Linked DNA regions of Homo sapiens: region 2 is linked to region 1. The links come from fine-mapping of genetic effects on gene expression. A gene starts in region 1. The other region holds a variant in brackets. All regions are shown on one strand. Distances are between the middles of the regions.

What was found. PIP is the estimated chance that this variant, and not a neighbour inherited with it, causes the effect. A credible set is the group of variants that fine-mapping cannot tell apart.
Region 2: its variant is the best candidate, but not a certain one, in a credible set for the expression of PGAP6 in whole blood (TOPMed, PIP 0.72).

Annotation. Positions count from the first base shown.
Region 1 is chr16:378,826-384,030 of GRCh38, forward strand. PGAP6 (post-GPI attachment to proteins 6) reads right to left here and starts at 3,153. Exons shown (of 13, transcript NM_021259.3): 1 at 2,876-3,153. The coding sequence starts at 2,996. It overlaps LOC100134368 (a long non-coding RNA gene), which reads left to right and starts at 3,416. Exons shown (of 3, transcript NR_024453.2): 1 at 3,416-3,652; 2 at 4,465-4,604. RefSeq lists an enhancer at 2,246-3,145 and silencers at 2,580-2,699, 2,830-2,979, 3,020-3,249, 3,270-3,619.
Region 2 is chr16:334,818-340,022 of GRCh38, forward strand. All of the region lies in intron 2 of AXIN1 (axin 1), which reads right to left. Among named protein-coding and RNA genes, the nearest start is that of AXIN1, 15 kb to the right of the region's middle. RefSeq lists enhancers at 1,412-1,706, 4,641-5,205. The variant C/T (reference allele first, on the strand shown) is at 2,770.

The DNA.
Region 1 (5,205 bases):
GGACAGCTGCCCTCTGCGTTCCAAGCGGGCAAGGCTCCTAACTGTCCTCAGGGAACGCACCCACGCCTGGTGCGGGGATGGAGAAGGGCCCGTGGGAGACATCCTGCTCATGGCCCCAGGCGAGGACTCAGGCTCTCACCCCCAGCCCCCCGTGCCAGCTCCAGCCTCGTGCCCTTGCGACCTTGGGCATCCTTCCCTCCCTGGGTCCCAGCCTTCTCCTGGGTAGGTCAGGGCGGAGGGCACATCCCTTTGGGGGCCCCTCCCTCCGAGGTTAATTAACGACAAAGGCTTCAGAAGGAAAAGCACAGTGGACACAGCAGGGGGCGGGACCCTCCCCTCTGCTGCAGCTCCCCCTCCCCACACACTCAGGAGCGCTGCCTAGGTCTCACTGGAGAGTGGCTGGCTCAGGCCCAGGCCCCTCCTGAGGAGGGAGACAGGTGAGCAGCAGGCTCTCCTGCCAGCCTCGTGACCCTCCCATAGAGGCACCAGAAGAAACGATACACCTGCCAATAGCAGCCTGTCGGCAAATCCAGGCCAAGCTCCAGGGGAACCTGGCGTGGCGACTGGGCAGGGGCTGGCCAGGCTCCACCCACGACGCACTCCAGGCTTTCCAGGTGTCTGCTGGCCACCAGGTCCCACCCACCAGGCTGTGGCCTGATAATGTGGGCAGAGAAAGCTCAAGTGCTGGGAGCTGAAGCAGGACAGCCCCCCAGGACCACGGTGTCCCGGAGAAAGCCGGCCTCTGCGGGGGCAGGCAGGGGAGGCCACCTGCAGCACACACAGCCCCTGGGCTGCTGGGGCAAAGCCCTCAGCCCCTCTGGCCCTGGAGCGCCAGCCTGAGGGCACCTAGAACCCAGCTGGTGGCTGTGAAGTTTCAGCAGGTACACAGAGATAAGAGATCTGTTCAAGGTTGTCCTAACACCCAGTCCCCGACTCCCAGGGCTCACAGCCCCTCCAGGCCTCTCCCAGGGCTCTGCAGCCCAAGCTCCCTGCCCAAGTTGCCCACACATACCAGGCTGTTAGGGGTGCTCTGAGCCGAGGTGACCACAGGGTGAGGAGGGCCAGCTACACAGCCCCCTGCCTGCCCCACAGCCCCTCCACGGACACAGGGCTGGGTGGGGAAGGTGGTAATGCAAGTCCCTGGCCCTGTCCTGGGAACCTGAGTGAAGACCCCAGACCCACGTCCTCCAAACCGGGACAGGCACCCATGGGAGACCCTGACCACCCACAACGCCACAGAGCACTTACTCCTCGGCAGGCTGGGAGGAGTGAGGGGCTGAGCCAGCACACCAGGCCTCTCCACTGTCCACACACAGGGGTTCCATCTCCCAGGAACCCCTCACCAGGCCTGAGTTCTGGGACAGGAGAATTTCCTTTGCCAGTTTCCAACGGAGTAAGGTTTTGGTATTTCTGAGGGTCTCACTCTGTCACCCAGGCTAGAGTGCAGTGCCATGAACACGGCTCACCGCAGCCTCAGCTTCCTATGTAACTGGAACCGCAGGCTTACATTACCACACCCAGGTTATTTTTTTTTCTTTCTGTCTTTCTTTTTTTTTTTTGAGATGGAGTCTCGCTCTGTTGTCCAGGCTGGAGTGCAATGGAGCGACTTCGGCTCACCGCAACCTCTGCCTCCCGGGTTCAAGCGATTCTCCTGCCTCAGCCTCCCGAGTGGCTGGGATTACAGGCATGCGCCACCACTGCCGGCTAATTTTGTATTCTTAGTAGAGAAGGGGGTTTCTCCATGTTGGTCAGGCTGGTCTCGAACTCCTGACCTCAGGTGATCCACCCGCCTCAGCCTCCCAAAGTGCGGGATTGCAGGCGTGAGCTTCGCGCCTGGCCATGGAGCAATTTAATCCGGGGCACGGTCCTCGGGGAAAACTGCCTTTCATCTCTACCTGTGCCAAGCTCAGAAAGCAGGAGGCACAGCCCCCGAAAGAAACAGGAGCTCAAAGGAGCATTATTTCAGGGGCAGGGGAGGGGAGGGGCTGGGGGCCGGGAAGTCGGGGAACAGCACCGCATCAGCTGCCGGGCACCTGGGCACCCGCGTGGCTGGGGACGTGTGGGAACTTCCAGCCGGCCAGAAAGGACACGGCCCCTCCAGAGTCCCAGGCCACAGAGGCCGGGGCAAGTCCTCACCATCTCAGGGTGGCCAAGGCCTGACGGTCTCCACACCCACGTCCCTACCCCGTGGAAGGGCTACGCCTTCTCCCTGGTCCAGCCGCCTCCTTGGACCTCAGTCAGGGACGGGGACCCTCAGGGAACAGAAATGCAAAGGGAGCCCGGCGAGTTTCCCAACAAGAGGGGAGAGGGGCGCCCTTTCCTCAGCCCCTCTTCCGCCAGCTGGGAGTCCCTCCTCCCAGAAGCCGGGCCGGCGGCAGGAAGCGGCCGTACCAGGGCTGGGGGTCACTGCGGAAGGGCTGGAGCCATGACGCCCACGGGCCCCCGCTACAGGGTCTAACAACTTTCTCCCGGCTCTGCCCCTCTCTCAGGCCGGACCCGGCCGGTGAGCTCACGGCCCAGCCACTCCTCCCAGCTGGAGTCCCGGGCAGAGTCCCCTGGGCCCCTCCACTTCCCCGCGCCGGGCGCGCCGGACCTGGGCGCTCTGGGAGGAGGAGGGAGGGGAGGGGGCGCTCCAGGGGCCGATGTGGCCCAACCCCGATCGGGGGACCGAGGAGGAAGCGCGGGGTCCCGTCCGCCTCGACCCCTAGGACACGAAGCGCCCCAAAGGGCCACTGTGCACCCCCAACCCGCGGCGGGGACCCCCAACCCCGCGCCGGCGCCAGATGAGCGCACAGGTGCGCCCGGGGTGTCACAATCCCGCCCCGCCCGCAGCCCCGGCCCCACGCCCCCGATGGCGCCCGCGCCTCCCGCTCACCGCTCTTCCCGCTGTAGCCGGCGGAGGCAGGCGGGGGCCGGGCAAGCAGCAGCAGCAGCAGCGGCCCCGCCACCACCGCGGCCACCGCCTCGCCCCCGGTCCCGGTGCCAGCCCGGCCCATGGCTCCGCGCTCGGCCCGGCGCTACCCGGCCCGCGTCCCGCGCCGCCGGCCCCCGCCGCCGCCCGGGCAGCCTCTGCCGCCTCCGCCTCTGCCGCCTCCGCCTCTGCCCCCGGCGCCCATGGCCCGGCCGGTCCCCGCCGCCGTCGCCCCGGGCACTTCCGCCCGCAGGCCCCGCCCCGCAGGCCGAGCCGGGAAGGCGAGGGCGGGGTCGGGGGGCGGGACCGGGGGGGGCGCGGACGCCGGGGGGAGGGGTCACGTGGGGCGCCGGTAGGGGGGAGGGGTCACGTGGGGCGCGCGGGGGACGGACCGGGGCGCGCGCGGTCCGGGGGGACGCTGGAGGGAGGGCGCGGGATGGAGGGATCGCGGGGGTCCCAGGACGGAGAGGTCGCGCCGGGCGCGCTCGGAACACGCAGGAAATTCTCCCCGAGGCGTGGGCTCCGCGGGGCTTCCCCGCCGGTTCGCTGAGTCCCAGCTCCGCTCGGCCGGGACCTCCGTGGCAGGCTCGGGGAGCCCGCGGGGGGCAGAGGCGCCGACCTCCGCCTGGGACCGAGAGGAACCCGCGCCCTGCCCTGCCCCGCCCGGCGCGCGTGGGCCTGAGTCAGGCGCCTCAGCACGGGGACCCCCGGGCCGGCCTTCACGCCGCAGAGCCGCTGCAGGTGCGTGTCAGATCCACGCTTTTATGCACAGACGAGAAGGCTGCTTGTGTTTAGGGACTGTAGTACCCGATCGGGGTGGCGGTTCACACGGGTGCGTGGCATCAACTCCCGGCGCTTTGCACCTGGATGGATTCCCACCATGTAAGATTTGAGCCGAAAAAAGGAAGCGATAAAGCCTAGAAAACTCGGGGAAGCTTTTTCCGTCTTAGGGCCAAGTCGGCTTTTCCAAGCGTGGCACAGAGTCCAGAAGTTCCGCCGCGTCGTGGGTGGGAGGGGGGTGGGGGCGTCTGCAAAGCCAAACTGCATAAGCGAAGTCCAAAAGACGAGCCCCCGACTGGGAGGTGGGGGACACAGCTTGCAGCTCACACCGCAGAGCTCACCTTAATAAGACTAGTAACAGTGCAGTAATAAACAGCTCTAAATCAATCACAGAAACGCTCCCCTAGAAAATACTGAAGGACAGCTGCCAGGGATACGCTGATCCTCCTCCCTCAGCGCAGAAATGCAAATTAAAAACTACTCCAGCTACTCCGGAGGCTGAGGCCAGAGAATCGCCTGAACCCGGGAAGCGGAGGTTGCAGTGAGCCGAGATCGCGCCACCGCACTCCAGCCTGGGCGACAGAGCGAGACTCCGTCTCAAAAAACAAAAACACAAAAACAAAAACAAAAACAAAAAACAAAACACTAAAGTGTCCTTCCCAGGATGTGAGGGTAAAAAGTTTAAAAAAAAAAAAAATTAAAGGAAAACCCCATTAAAGTGACTTCTTTTTCCTTTCACCTAACACATTGGCAAATAAAAACTGTACTAACAGGTGAGACTGTGGCCCACAGACACTGCTTGCAGCAGGCAGAGGATGTGGGAGCCTCGTGGGAACCCCCCCGACTTGTCCACTGAAGTAACAGCAGCAATGACCTTCCCTCGGGAATTCCACCTCTGCGTTTTTCCCTCCAGGTACGTTCACGGAAGTGGCACACTGCATGCGTCCAGTGAGTCAATGTGGCACCGCCTACATGCGTGTCACTGGCCGGTGGGACATTCAAATCATTCATACGGGGTCTAAACGAGACAGAGCGTGGCCGAGACAGGAAAGACAGGAAGCGCTGTGCTGCTTGGAAATGGTCCACCAGGTGCAGCAGTAGCTGCAAGAAAGGAACAGGAAGAACGGTGTGTTCAAAGCTCTACCATTTGTGTAGAAAAGGGAGAAAAACACGTTTCCTTTGTGTGTGTCAAAGGCATCGAATGTCTGGAATGATCCAGCACCGGCTACACTGGTTGACCTTGGAGGAGGAGAGGCGGGGTGGGGATGGGGATGGCCGCAGGGACCATACCTGTTTGTACCTTTTGAACGCCGCAGCGGGTGGTGAGGGTTTACGGAGCGGGGGAGGGGAAGCTGACTCCACGAGCCCAGACCCCTGAAGGCCAGAGCAGCGGAGGTGGAGGGTGTTGGCCGGGGAGGAAGGAAGCCCCGGCTGAGCCTTAAAGAGACCCTTTGTTTCCCGGGAATCCCAGCTGGGCCGTCCTCAGCCCCGACTGAGGGGAAAGGGGGGCTCCC
Region 2 (5,205 bases), 44 kb before region 1:
GGCATGCCAAAAGCAAACCATCCAGTACCATGACACGCTAATTACACAGCACCCAGTACCATGGCACACTAATTACACACCACTCACTAGAGAGAAACACTCTGAGGCAGAAATAGAAAATCTTTATTTTTATGAGATATTTAATTTTTTTCTGCTTCTTTTAAAAGGAGTTTCACTTTACCCAAATGAACCAAACGCAACCAACTCATGAGAATCTACAAAACACTCCCATTGGCGTATAGAATGCACAGCAGTAAGTGGACACATAACAAAGCCAAAATAAAAACGGCCTGGACTGCTTTTATTTGTAAACTTTTTTGTTCACCATGGAAATGCTTTATCTTTGTGGTATCTCCAACATAACTCCACACTGCACCACGAAGCTATAAATTCCAAAGCTAATGGAATTTCCAAGCAAAGGTGCAAGCCTGACACTGCATGAGGGGCCCTCACGCCAGTGCCTCTACTTACGTCACCCTCAGATCTCCACACAGGCACACCTCGGCCACTAGTCTGTACCAGGACACACTAATAACACAGCACACAGTACCACAGCATGCCAATAATGCAGCACCCAGTATCATGGCACGCTAATTACACAGCACCCAGTACCACGGCACACTAATTACACAGCACCCAGTACCACAGCACACCAATAACATAGCACTCAGTACCACAGCACGCCAATAACACAGCACCCAGTACCACGGCACACCAATAACATAGCACCCAGTACCACTGCATGCCAATAACACAGCACCCAGTACCATGGCACCCAATAACACAACACCCAGTACCATGGCACCCAATAACAGCACCCAGTACCACTGCGCCCAGTTACACAGCATGCCAGTACCACACACACCAGCTCCAAGGCACCCAGTACCACAGGATGCCTAAAGAGTAACTGTTTCAACCAGAGTGGGAATATGGAAGACTTCAGGACACATGTCTTCCAGAGAAAAAATACTTTATCCAAGAGGTTTTACAGTGAGGAGAAGAATATTCACAAGCACTCTATTGAGCTGAAGAATATGGGAAGATTTAAGTTGGAAAGTAAAATATTTAATCAAATGAAAAAAACGGCCATTATTAACTCAAAAACAAACACACAAAATTGTACAGGAAAGAAAATGGCCAGGCGTGGTGGCTCACGCCTATAATCCTAGCACTTTGGGAGGCCAAGGCAGGGGGATCACTTGAGGTCAGGAGTTCGAGACCAGCCTGGCCAACATGGTAAAACCTGGTCTCTGCTAAAAATACAAAAATTAGCTGGGTGTGGTGATGCACGCCTGTAATCCCAGCTACTCGGGAGGCCGAGGCAGAAGAATTTCTTGAACCCAGGAGGCGGAGGTTGCAGTAAGCCAAGATGGTGCCATTGCACTCCAGCCTGGGATACAAGAGCAAAACTCCGTCTCAAAAAAGAAAATGATTGACCCACTTGGCTCAGAAGTGAAAGCACCATGCCCTGGTGCATGAACACCTCAGGGTAGGGGTGAGACAGGAGAGCAGCAGAGCTCTCAAAGAGCCAGTGGACACAAGATAGCAGTGAGCACGTTACTCAGAAAAGGCACTAAGGACCGAACCGTGTCGCCCAATTAATATGTGTCAGCCCTGACCATCACGTGGCTGTGCTTGAAGTAAGGAAGTGTTATTGTTAGATGAGAACGCAAACGTGGGGCCCTGACCCAAGAGGGCTGGTTCCCTAAAAGAACAGACACCAGCTGGGCGCGGTGCCTCACACCTGTAATCCCAGCACTTTGGGAGGCCAATGCGGGCAGATCACGAGGTCAGTCCAAGACCAGTCTGGCCAATATGGTGGAACCTCATCTCTACTAAAAATACAAAAATTAGCCAGGTGTGGTGGCGCATGTCTGTAATCCCAGCTACTCAGGAAGCTGAGGCAGGAGAATCATTTGAACCCAGGAGGCGGAGGTTGCAGTGAGCTGAGGTTGCACCACTGCACTCCAGTCTGGGCAACAGAGCAAGACTCCGCCTCAAAAAAAAAAAAAAAAAACAAAACATAAATACAAGAACTTAACCAGGTGTGGGCCAGGCACAGTGGCTCACGCCTGTAATCCCAGCACTTTGGAAGGCCGAGGCTGGTGGATCACAACGTCAGGAGATGGAGACCATGATGGCTAACACGGTGAAACCCCGTCTCTACTAAAAACACAAAAAAATTAGCCGGGCATGGTGGCAGGCGCCTGTAATCCCAGATACTGGGGAGGCTGAGGGAGGAGGAGCTCTTGAGCCTGGGAGGGAGAGGTTGCAGTGAGCTGAGATCACACCACTGCACTCCAGCCTGGGTGACAGAGCAAGACCCCGTCTCAAAAAAAAAAAAAAAAAAAAAAAAAAAAGACACATTTACGTGTATCCTTTTTAAAGAAAAAATGTGCTTTTGAATAGCTGCATATTTTAAAGCTTTTATTCTTTTAATAATATACTTTCTAATTATAAACATGCTGTTATAGGAATTTGGAAAATACAGAAAAACAAAGAAAAAAATTAAAAGCCCACATATCCAACTGTATGAATGCCACTGGGCATTCAAGTCATCCTATTTGCTGGAATATTACAAGCAGCACTCCTTAGGGTTATTTTAAATGTTTGTTTAGGAGCAGACACCAATCCCATAGACTACAGGTGAGCTAGTAAAGATCCAGAGTGGGTCAAAACCAAAAAAAAAAAAAAAAAAAAGCACTGGAGCAACCTCAAAGGAGGCAGGAGGGTGAGTGCCATGAGCAGGGCACAGGACCAAGCAGCCCA[C/T]TGCAGCTCACAGTGAGGACAGCGCCTGCCAGGACACCCGGACGCCCAGCTACCCGGCCACCTGGCCACCTAGCCAGCTGAGCCAAGAGCTGAGCCCATTTGCCAGCAGATGCTTCAACGGATCACAAAGGAAGCCCGTGGGCCGAGGCTGCAATCCACACAAGCCAGCGTTCAACTCCGGACAGGGCCCAGGGTCCTTGCTGGAGGAGAAGGGGCATGGAATCTGGGCCCTATGGGCACTCAGCCGGGCGTGCGGCCTCTGGGGGCCCCCTGGACGCCACAGCAGTATGGCAGAGCTGTGTGTGTTTTCACAGAGCCCTGTGACCAGTCTCCATCTCTCAGGGAGTGGAGAGACCGAACACCTTCTGGAGCTAATGGGTTCTGAGAGAACCCTGAGTGGTTATTCTCACAGATGTGACACGGGGAAAAACTGAGGTGAAGCTGCTTCCCTCCACACGCACAAGTAGGCAGCGGAGGGGCCCAAGAAAGAGCCAACAGGCGGCCCTCTCTCCCTGACAGCCACCATAGCCCAGCCTGGCCCCCACCTCCGATAACTGCAGGGTACGCTGCTACAAATGACGTCTGCGTTTGACAAGGATGAGCAGAACCGGAGCGTGTGCGTCAATTCAAATCTGTGACACTGGCGCAAAATGTGAGAATGGGCTGGGGTGCCAGGCGGCCAGTCACGGCTAGGGCACAGTTCCAAGAAGGGCCACAGGGGCCCGCAGGGACACTTACCCCAAGCCCTCCAGAAACAGCTGCTGCAGGTCAGCACCAGCACCAGGGCCAGGCACACAGTCTCATCGGCACGTCTGCCACTGGCTGTCTGCAAAGTGCTTCCCTTTCACAACCCACCCACACAGCTCAGGACTGAGGTCCGCCCAGGCAAAGGGGCCTCTCGGTTCCAGAATCCTTTGGCCTGACAGGCAACTACAGATACTTTCGTGGACTCTGCTGAAACCTGTCTGAGACTATGGAGCTTTACGTGGCTAAGGAAGAGAAAAAATATGTTTGGAGTCCTTGCCCACTGACAGGTGCATAAAAATACAAGATGGACTGGGCACAGTGGCTCACGCCTATAATTCCAGCACTTTGGGAGGCCAAGGTGGGCGGACCACTTAAGGTCAAGATTTCGAGACCAGCCTGGCCAACATGGCGAAACCTTGTCTCTACTAAAAATACATAAAGTAGCCAGGAGTGGGGGCATGCACCTGTAATCCCAGCTACTCGGGAGGCTGAGACTAGAGAATCACTTGAACCTGAGAGGCAGAGGTTGCAGTGAGCTGAGATCGCGCCATTGCACTCCAGCCTGGGTGACAAGAGCGAAACTCCATCTTGGGGAAAAAAAAAAAAAGTGGGATGCAAGCTGGTGCTGTGGGGACAGAGTCCAGCAGAGCACCAGCAGAGTCCAGCAGAGTCTGGGATTACAGGCATGAGCCACCGTGCCTGGCCAGGAATCATTTTTAAAGTTTTCCTTGGACATCCACAAACAAAAAAAATTTCCCTTTGGGCAGGGTGTGGTGGTTCACACCTGCAACCCCTGCACTTTGGGAGGCCGAGACGGGCAGATCACTTGAGGTCAGGAGTTCAAAACCAGCCAGCCTGGTCTCAAAAAAAAAAAAAAAAAAAAAAAAAGGCCGGGCGTGGTGGCTCACACCTGTAATCCCAGCACTTTGGGAGGCTGAGGTAGGCGGATCACAAGGTCAGGAGATCGAGACCATCCTGGCTAACAAGGTGAAACCCCGTCTCTACTAAAAATACAAAAAAAAAAAAAATTAGCCGGGCGTGGTGACACGCGCCTGTAGTCCCAGCTGCTGAGGAGGCTGAGGCAGGAGAAGTGCTTGAACCCAGGAGGTGGAGCTTGCAGTGAGCCAAGATTGTGCCACTGCACTCCAGCCTTGGCGATAGAGCGAGACTCCATCTCAAAAAAAAAAAAAAAAAAAAAATTAGCCAGGCATGGCGGCAGGTGCCTATAATCCCAGCTACTGGGGAGGTTGGGGCAGGAGAACTGCTTCAACCTGGGAGGCGGAGGCTGCAGTAAGCCGAGATGGTGCCACTGCACTCCAACCTGTGTGACAGAGCAAGACTGTCTAAAAAAAAAAAAAAATTCTCTTCAGATCTGCTCAAACAGGGGAAGCAAATACCCCAAAGGAGACTAGAAACCCCCCACACCCAGGCAAGGGGAGCCCACGCAAGGGGCAGTATGGCTCACAAGCACCTCTGCCCCCTCTGCACCACAGCAGAGGTCCCCTTAACAAGACAAGCCTGGGGGCGACCCCACCCTGGGCCACACCCTTTGCACAGGAAGCAGAGTTCACCCTTGCAACACAGCCCCTCTGCAGCCGGGCACCTTCAACAGCACCACCGCCTGAGGTCCAACGGACATGGAAACCCAAAACCACTCCTCCACAGACAACTCTGTACACATTTTGGGCC